Linked DNA regions of Homo sapiens. The protein of the gene in region 3 interacts with the protein of the main gene of each other region in a pairwise test. Each region holds a gene or a part of one and is shown on either strand. Other genes may lie near its edges.

Region 1 (3,741 bases), on a different chromosome or scaffold from region 3:
ATAGTGAGACCCCCATCTCTACAAAAAAATTTTTAAAAATTAGCTGGGTGTGGTGGCATGTGTCGTGGTCCCAGCTACTTAGAAAGCTGAGGTGGGGGGATTGCCTGAGCCCAGGACATTGAGGCTGCAGTGAACCATGATCATGACAGGGCAAGACCCTGTCTCAAAAGATTAAAAATTTCTTTTTAAGGGCTCAGTGTGGTGGCTAATCCCTGTAATCTTAGCACTTTGGGAAGTCAAGGTGGAAGAATGGCTTGAAGCCAGAGTTTAAGATCAGCCTGGGAAATATAATGAGATTCTGTCTCTATTGAAAAAAAAAAAAATCAGCCAGGCATGGTGGTGAGTGCCTATAGTCCCCATAGCTTCTTGGGAAGCTGAGGTGGGAGGACTGGTTGAGCTCAGGAGTTTGAGGCTACAGTGAGTCATAATCATGCCACTGCACTCCAGCCTGGGTGACAGAGTGAGACCCCATCTCAGGAAAAAAAAATTTTTCAATAAAATTTTAAGTTTTATTGTTTATGTCATTAAAACAAATATTATGTTAATATAGCAACATCAGAAAGTTAAAGTCACTTATAATTTTACAGAAATCACTATTGACATTTTTGCATATTCTTCCAGATTTTTTCTAATCATATATATTTATAAGCAGATATTCATTCACAAAATGAATTATTACTACACATCCAAGTGACTGTTCTATGTGCTGGAGATACAAGGATGATCAAGACACTTAAAGTCTCTATGTATAAAATTTATATTCTGTGTGTTTTATAACTATATCTGAATTTTTAAAATCAGGTTTATTTCATGATATCACAGAGGAACTGAACATTTTAAGTGAACTCATGTTTGCTAATTAACTAACGCAATTATGGAAAATGCAAAAGAAACTGACCTGAATATAGAGATTTAATTTAATACAAAGCTGTCTGATGGCAAGGTAATAGAAATTTCTTCAATTTACTGAGGTGTTTACATAGATCTAAAATTTTCTGGAATTAAAGAACTTTGGGCCAGGTGCAGTGGCTCACACCTGTAATCCCAGCCAGCACTTTGGGAGGCCAAGGCAGGCGGATCACAAAGTCAGGAGGTCAAGACCATCCTGGCTAACATGGTGAAACCCCGTCTCTACCAAAAATACAAAAAATGAGCCGGGCACGGTGGCACGCACTTGTAGTCCCAGCTACCTGGGAGGCTGAGGCGGGAGAATTGCTTGAACCTGGGAGGCGGAGGTTGCAGTGAGCCGAGATTGCACCACTGCACTCCAGCCTGGGCGACAGAGTGAGACTCCGTCTCAAAAAATATAATAATAATACTAAGATTTTATGTTTCTAAGAGTTGATTATCCTGATTTTTAAAATTCATTTAACTATTATTTATTGACTGACTTCCAATATGCACTACACAGAAATACAAAAGGACTCTATTAAAACAGGAAACTTTTTACAAAGTTAGATTCAACTGCAAATAAGGTCCTATTGAGGGGCTTATTAAAAATGAAATATCTATTAGGAATATAACGTTTTAAAAATTTACCTTTTTCTTGCTTTTTTCCTATTAGGAATACAATTTACTATTCTAAAGTAAATTGTCAAGAATACGATTTAAATACAGTTTAATTTTCTTTTTCTTTCTTTCCCATTTTTTTTTTGAGACGGAGTTTCACTCTTGTTGCCCAGGTTGGAGTGCAATGGCGCGATCTTGGCTCACTGCACCTGGCTTAATTTTTAAAGTAATCTGAATATTCACTGTCTAAACATGATGACATCAAGATCAAAAAAATTTCTTAATATTTCTGAGAGCTCTTTGACTTTTAAAATATAAGCACTATTATGATAGATCAATTAAGATTATGAATTTAGGACAGGCACGGTGGCTTACGCCTGTAATCCCAGCACTTTGGGAGGCCGAGGCGGGCGGATCACAAGGTCAGGAGATCAAGACCATCATGGCTAACATGGTGAAACCCCATCTCTACTAAAAATACAAAAAAACATTAGCCGGGCATGATGGTGGGCGCCTGTAGTCCCAGCTACAGGAGTCTGAGGCAGGAGAATGGCGTGAACCCGGGAGGCGGAGCTTGCAGTGAGCTGAGAGTGCACTACTGCACTCCAGCCTGGGCGACAGAGCGAGACCCCGTCTCAAAAAAAAAAAAAAAGATTATGAATTTAATTGTCATAGTTATAAAATAGAATGTATTGAATCTCAACTATCCTAAATAATTATTAGCTAGAATTATCAACAATCACTCTACTATTCTGTGATATAGGACCTATTATTATCATCATTTTATAGAAAAAGATGATGAGGTTCATTGCTCAAAATTATAAGGTTATCATTTATTGAGCATTTACCATAGTAAGGTACTATGCTAAAAGTGTTTTACCTATATCATTTAACCCTTTTGACAATGCTGTGATTCAGTTACCTGTTCCAATTTACATATAGGATAGGCAGATAAGTAACTTTCCCAAGATTACAAATATGCTGAGTGGCTGAGCAAGAACTCAAACCTACATGTGTTTATTTCAAAGCCCGTACTCTATTATTACAATAGGAACTTTTTCAAACCAATAAACAAAGCTCTCTTCTGCCTTTATTAGTCAAAAATCCATAGCTTTAAATCTTTTTCTGGATAGGTTAACAAATTAAAGATGTTAAAAGGAATTATTTGTTCCTTTTTGTTTTCAACTTTTGCCAGTTGAAATTTAATTAGAAGCAGTACCGTAACATACAAAAAACTCTATCTCCGACACCACCCAAAAGCTAGAGCTCTAACTATGCAGGCATTGTAGTCACTGAAAAAACATTAGGTAGAACAGATTGAGAAGTGGAGTTTAGGAAGAAGTTGTAAAAAGTGCCAATAGCTTAGGGGTAAGAATTCCAAATATTCCCAGTTTCCTGACAGGTACTCTGATCCTACTGCAAGTTACCTTTACTAGCCTAATTTTATTTTTTTTACTTTATTTACTTTTGCTCACTCACTCTGAAATTTCATCAGTAAAATTTTCATTGATGTTAATAAGCCCTTTTTCTTAAAAAGAAAAAACTTTGGAGGGAACATCAGCCATTAACAAATTGGTATAAATTTCTGTAAGGATGGATTTCTTCCTTTAAAACGAGTTAAAAAGAGCTACCCTGAGGGAGTGAAAAGTTTTACTTGGAGGTGAGAAAGCAAGTACAGGTGAGCCTCAAAGAACTTAGAGGGATTCAGCAGGCCTGCACAGGATGCTGCAGTGAAGACTGAGGGAAGTATGACTGGCTTAGGTAAGTACACTAGTTAAGGGGTGGGGAGTATGTTGACAGAGGAAGACTGCCAAACACAAACCACCTACTGCAGAATTTTGCCCATATTGAGATTTTGCCAATGGAATAAAAATAACTATATTTTCTACTGCCTTCTGGAAATGAAAATCTATGGGTTAAAGACTTTTTGTGGTTACATTGAGAAAATATTAAAGTAGTTTCTATACGGAAAAGTTGGTTTTAATATGATGACTGACCTAACCCATTGTTGAAATGAAGATTAAAAGTACATTTTTAAGTTACAGACACACTTTAAAAAAATAATTTGGATGCAGTGAAAAGTATTACCTCTTCCTTCCTCCTTTCTTCCATCAATTTGCTTTACCTTCTTTAATCCTGACAACTGCAAAGTGACTTAAAATAGCTGATTTTCCCAACTATCCTGAATGTCAGTATATGCTATAAGTTTTTATCCCTAACTGCCAATTAACT
Region 2 (3,741 bases), on a different chromosome or scaffold from region 3:
AGGCAGGAGGATCACTTGAGCCCAGGAGACTGAGGTTGCAGTGAGCTAGCTATGTTCATGCCACTGCACTCCAGCCTGGACAACAAAGCAAGAGACAATACAATTTCCCATATGTTGGTATGTATGAGATATATACCTATTATTAATTTATGACATTTCCTTTACTTTAGCAAGTTAGTAGTAAGAGGTGAAGTCAAAGAGGTAAGCTGGGGCTAGAGACTAGTAAACCAAGTACGGAGTTCAGATTATATTCTAATTGCATTAGGGAACTATTAAGAGTTAAGTAGGAAATCGGCATTTGCATTAAAAAAAAAAAAAAACCACCTTAGTCCTATGTGGAGGATAGATAAGTTAGGCAACAGTAATACCGGAAATAAGTGATGAGGTTTGGACTAGAGCAGTGATGATGATAAATTCTTTTAAATTTCCTAACAGCCTCTTCAGGTAGGTACTATTATCTTCATTTTAGAGTGAGCCAAGGGCAGAGAGATTAAATAACTGGTCCAAGGTCACACAGTTTAGTAGGGGCCATATTGAGATTCAAACACAAGCAATTTGGTGGAAGAGTAATAAGATGTAGAGAAGAAGACGAAGTAGTTTTAGAGTTATGGTTGTCAAGACTTGCTAATCAATTAGATGTACAGATGAAAGAAAGAAAGAAAGAATATTCCTAGGTTTTGCTTGAGTTTGGTAGTATAATTATGCAGAGAAAGGATATAAAATAAAAAGAAAAGGGGTTCCAGGACCTACATATGGAGTACTGCACCATTTAAAAGTTGAACAGAGAAGGAGGCAGGAGCAGAACACCCAGTGCTTGGCAGGAAAATTGGGAGAGCTCGAAAAGCCAAGAGACTAAGTATTTCTAGGAGGAGGGAGGACAATGTATACAATGCTGTTGAGAGAAGGTGTAAATGAGAACAGGTGTAAATGCTAAATTAATTCCGAGAGTCTTCTAATTGTATAATTAAGGCGACAATTTCTATATGATTGCCATGCATCCTTCCATTTTTCACCTCATGGTCCACGTACCGTAAGAGATCCATTTTGTGTGCTGGGTGAGTTGCTGCTCTGCTCCCCGTGGGCTTGCGTACTTCCGTAGAGTGTCAGGTTATGCTCACCGGTCTGGCCGGCATAGTCTTGAGTGTGTGGCACCCCATACTCTGTGGGAATTCCATTCTGCGGAGGTGGTGGAAATGGGATGGTAGTAAAAGGCTGAACCATTGCGTCAGGAGTTGTTGTCGGCTCCTGGTTACCCTAAAACAAACAACAAGAGAAAGAAAAAGTGACTTTGAATCCTTGTTACGTAACTATTTTTAAAGTGAGTATATGGAATTCTCTGAATATTCTCTCACTGCATAGGTAAAATGGAATGCTTATTGCTCCAGGATTGGAGAAAATATTATTACACATACACACATAGATATATGTATGTGGACAGACACACACACACACACACACACACACACACACACACTCACTTTTGTTAATGTGTAGTTACTAGACAGGCCCACAACCATATTTAAGTGGACTAGATGCCAAAGGGGCAAAAATCTTTCCTTTAAATTAAAAGTAGGTGGAGAGCCCACTTTGGACCACAAGCCACTACAGCCTATACCACAGAGAGAGACTCTGTCCCTAAAAAATACGAAAAACAAAAAAGAAAAATCAACTAGGAGAAAATATTAGCAAAAGGTAAGAGAGATGCTGGGTTATTATCACTAGTCCCAGAGTGGGTTAACCAAGTTGACAAGACAGACACACATGTACACACAAACACACACACATCCCAAGAGAAAAACAGGCAAACTGTGTATCTGAACAATTCATTGAAAATGAAATACAAACAACTAATAAAAATGCTCAACCTCACTAACTGTCACGAAAATTCACATTAACATCAAAGTAAGTCCAAGTCTTTAGTCATCAAATCAGCAAAAAAATTAAGCAGTTTTATTATGATATAACTGTCATATGATAAACAGCACTTATTTATTTACAGTATACAATTTGGTAAGTTTTGATATATGCACTTATATTCTCATGAAATCATCACCACAATCAAGATAGTCAACACATATATCCAAAACCCCCAAAAGTTTCCTTGTGCCCCAATAATAAACATATATTACTTTTGTAATAAAACCTATACAAATATATTGTTTTTAATACTAAAGAGAATGACAAAAAATATATCATCAATAAGGGGAAGCCAATATTCTGAAACACTGAATTACTGTGTTACTCTTAAGAGAATGGTAGTGACCTACCTTGAAACAAAAATTCATAACTCTCTTCCATTTAAAAGTTAAACAACTTCAAAATTCAGCTGTCTCCAATGTCCAAGAATCATTTCTACTTGGTAATAAAAACTGCTTTACACAATAGTGGTGAAAGAAAAAAGGCAGAGAATTGGGGGTGGGGGGCTGCCACAGTCTAGATAAAAAGTGATGAACTGATTACAGTTATCAGTGGGAAGGGGCAGAGTCATAGACTGAGTTGTGCTCAGTCTCCAACCCGTATGTTGAAGTTCTAACCCTCAGTACCTCAAAATGTCACTGTTTTTAAAGATAAGGTCTTTAAAAAGGTAATTAAAGTGATGTCATGAGGGTGGGCCTTAATCCAATTGGAGTGGTGTCCTTATAAGAAAAGGGAATGTGGATACAGACACATACAGAGGGAGGCCCATGTGAAGACACAGAGCATGACCATCTACAAGCCAACAAAAAAGACATCAGAAGAAACCAACCCTGCTGACACCCTGATCTTGCACTTCTAGCCTCCAGAATGGTAAGAAAATACATTGCTATATTGTTATGTAATACTTTCTTATGGCAGCCCTTGCAAACTGGTAAAGGCAGGAATGAAGATTCTGTAACAGAAATTAATAATAAAAATAAAAATAAATTGCTTTACATAAAAATTTTCCTGCTATTGGACATAATGGTTCATGCCCTTGTAATCCCAGCACTTTGGGAGGCTGAGATGGGAGGACTGCCTGCGGCTAGGAGTTCAAGATCAGCCTGGCCAACACAAAGAGACCCTGTCTCTAGAAAAACTTTAAAAAATTAGCTGGGCATGGTGGTATGTGTAGTCCCAGCTACTTGTGAGGCTGAGAAAGGAGGACTGCTTGAGCCCAGGAGCTGGAGGCTGCAGTGAGCCATGATTGCATCACCCTAGCCTGGGCAACAGAAAGACCACGTCTCTTAAGGGAAAAAAAAAAAAAAAAAAGGCTGGGTGTGGTGGCTCACTTCTGTAATCCCAGCACCTTGTGAGGCTGAGGCGGGCAGATCACTTGAGGTCAGGAGTTCAATACCAGCCTGGCCAACATGGTGAAACTCCATCCCTATTAAAAATACAAAAATTAGCCAAGCATGGTGCCAAATGCCTTTAATCTCAGATATCTTGGAAGCTGAGGCAGGAGAATCGCTTGAACTCAGGAGGAGGACATTGCAGTGAACTGACATCGCTGCCATTAAACTCTAGCCCGGGCAACAGAGTGAGTGAGACTCCATCTCAAAAGATAGAAAAAAAAAAAAACCCCTCTCTTTAGTTCTTAGAAAATATGTTATGAAAACTTTAAATTTTTTTGGAAAAAGTCTATCTTCGTCACCCATCACCATATAACTTCTTTACGTTATTTCTAGGTTAGGATAGTTTTTATGATGTCTTTATAGCTATTCTGGGCATCTGACGAGAGATATAAAATAGTTATCTCCCTTCCCCTTCAAATTATTCAATGCT
Region 3 (2,700 bases):
AATATTAGCCAGGTTTGGTGGTACCCCCCTGTAGTCTCAGCTACTTGGGAGGCTGAGAGGGAAGATCACTTGAGCCTAGGAGTTCAAAGCTGTAGTTCTACCTTTAGAAAACGTATCCTAAGGTGACAGACGAGTATGCAAACACATATGTGAGGATATTAACTTTAGGGTTGTTTATAATGGTGAAAAATTAGAAATAACCAACATGGACATCGAGTACTGGTTAAATGTGTAGTGGCATATCCATACAAGAAAACATGTCATCAAAAATGTCCATGTAAGCCTGTACAAAATTGTGCACAACATGTTGAGGGGGGAAAAGCAATACACAAAATCAAATAATTCCAATTTTATAAATGAACATGTGGAAGACTGCTCACTAAAATATTAGATAAGGGTGACTGGTTTTTTTTCTCTTTAGATTTTTATATCTAGCTTTTATTATTTTTATAATAAATATTTCAAGCTATTTTCATTTTAGAAAACAAAAGCCACTAAAATCAAGTATTACTATCTTTATTATGGTATACAGCAGTATTTTATACATTAGCTCATTTTATAGTAAAAACATTTATGCACAACTGTAGAGAAACTGCTGCACAGATAGCTCCAACTTAAATTAGAAAATATTTTCTTTGTAGAAAATAGTAAAAATTATAACATTTACCAAGCTAACCCAACAAGTTCATTTAAACCAAAAAGTAGCTAAATACATTATACATTTATAAATACAGGTTGAATTCTGGGATCCAGGAGAAACTTTAGTCCTTTATTGAAATAGCCATGTTTTAAGTTATGTGAAGTGAAATTTCTATTAATCTTCTCTCTTACTCTTAATTTATGCCAGATTATTTTTCTTTAGGCTAAATCCATAATCCACAACAAGGTTTTAGCTGTTCTTTTCTAAAGGACGGGTACCATATCCTTTTAATCTGCTTGATAAGGTACCCATGCCTATCCAAATAATGAAATGGTTCAGTTATTATTAAAGCATGCCCAGTATTTGGGCAAAACCAGAATCTAATAAATTACACTGTCACCTAATACCCATGGCTTGATGGGAAGCCATGAGGAACAAGGGTAAAGTGATAAAACTGGCAAGTGGATCAAGGAATAAAAGCCAAGAGAATTCTGAGACCAGAGGGCAAGAAATATCTAGTCGGGATTCAAGGACAGAACTGAAGTTCAAATAGAAAAAGAATGTTGCCTCAAGGATTAGGAGCTGAGCTGGCTATCAGAGCTCCTAGTACATGGTGATCAAATAAGGGGCAGTTAGAGATAAAGACTGGATTAAGCAAGAGAAATCAGGACCAAGAAAGATTCTAGGTATTCACAATAATTAAATGAAAACAAGACAGACCATGCAGCTTTAAATTTCCTAGCATAGTAGTTCCAGGATTCTCAGTACAGAAATAATCTCTGGAAATTAAGGCGAGAAGATAATGCCACTCTTAAGCTCCTGTGCTATGTAGAATGTTTCCCAGAGAAATAATATCTGAGAAATCAGGCAGTTATCTGGCCAGGGGCTACATCAGGTTCTTCAGTTCCCTCAAAACAACTTAATCACATACAGTTTGTCTTAAAAGGAAGCCTCCAAGCAGCTAAAACAAACTTTCAACAGACATTCAGTTTAACAGATCCTATACTGTGGCTTTAGGAACTAGGCCACTGACTACCTAAAAACCCCAGCTTGCCCACTTGAAGTTAACCTCTAGAAACATTAGTGATCTGTGAAGTTTTCACCATTAAAACAATGCTTTATCATCCAAATCATACTTGTTCTTCTCTTTGCTTTCCAGTTATGAATTTGTTACCTTTTTGCATTTGATTATTTCCAGTGGTTTGGTTCTTTTTTTTTTTTTTTTTTTTTACATACTCTTGAGCAATGCTAATCTGCGCCCCCTACTCCCTTAAGTCCTTCTTGGTAAATAATGTTAATCTTCCAATAGGAAGAAGTGGAGTACATTACCATTTAAGCACCATTTATCCAGCCTACTTACAAATAAAGCTATGGAGCCACCTTATACATGTGAAATTCCTTAAAACCCTGGCTTTCTATTAAAATGTACTTTTATATATACTATCTATGAAGAATTCACTAAAGCATGAATCACCTTATAATGAGAAGCTAAAAATGTATCAAAACGAACATAAGTATAGGTAATCCACATCAAACATACTACATCTTCCAAGTCTAGAGCATACACTGGTATAAACTGTATTACAACCCAGATTAGTTTGAAATCTTGTTTCAAAACATTGCTCAGTATTAAGTCTCAGTAGACAAATAATAGGACCACATGAGAAACTGTTCGGCAGGTGGCTGAGGAAACCTTAACTTCCAAAGGCTCAAAGTGGTCCTCCAGAGACTGTTACACTCCCTTAGGTATTTATTTCAGGGAAGGACACTATTAAGGGACACTTTTGAGTATAAAGACAGGTGAACTCACAAAGTATAGGCAGATACATGCTTGATTTTATCTTCTAATCTACAGATAATACATTAGAATAAAAATGTAATGAATTCATACACCTTTCAAAAGGAAAAACTGATGAAGAAGTAACAATAAAGTTATAAATGATAATGATCAGATGAAATAATTTAAATGAAGCTTGTCTGTGTCTGAAAGAGACAGGGACTTGGCAAGTGGTCAAAAGGAGGCACAATGTGCTTTTAACTTTGCATGAAAAATAATGTTC

The links.
Region 1: the proteins of DDX21 (region 3) and CARF interact in binary tests that used the Homo sapiens proteins (3 or more experiments, as listed by UniProt).
Region 2: the proteins of DDX21 (region 3) and RBFOX2 interact in a two-hybrid assay, tested with the Homo sapiens proteins (one large-scale study listed by BioGRID).

Annotation. Positions count from the first base shown.
Region 1 is NC_000002.12:202,918,578-202,922,318, reverse strand, and holds part of CARF (calcium-responsive transcription factor), read right to left. Parts: intron 1-3,741. UniProt on the Homo sapiens protein: Acts as a transcriptional activator that mediates the calcium- and neuron-selective induction of BDNF exon III transcription. Binds to the consensus calcium-response element CaRE1 5'-CTATTTCGAG-3' sequence.
Region 2 is NC_000022.11:35,808,751-35,812,491, forward strand, and holds part of RBFOX2 (RNA binding protein fox-1 homolog 2), read right to left. Parts: intron 1,255-3,741; coding exon 1,030-1,254; intron 1-1,029. UniProt on the Homo sapiens protein: RNA-binding protein that regulates alternative splicing events by binding to 5'-UGCAUGU-3' elements. Prevents binding of U2AF2 to the 3'-splice site.
Region 3 is NC_000010.11:68,982,869-68,985,568, reverse strand, and holds the end of DDX21 (nucleolar RNA helicase 2), read right to left. Parts: 3' UTR 501-2,700; downstream 1-500.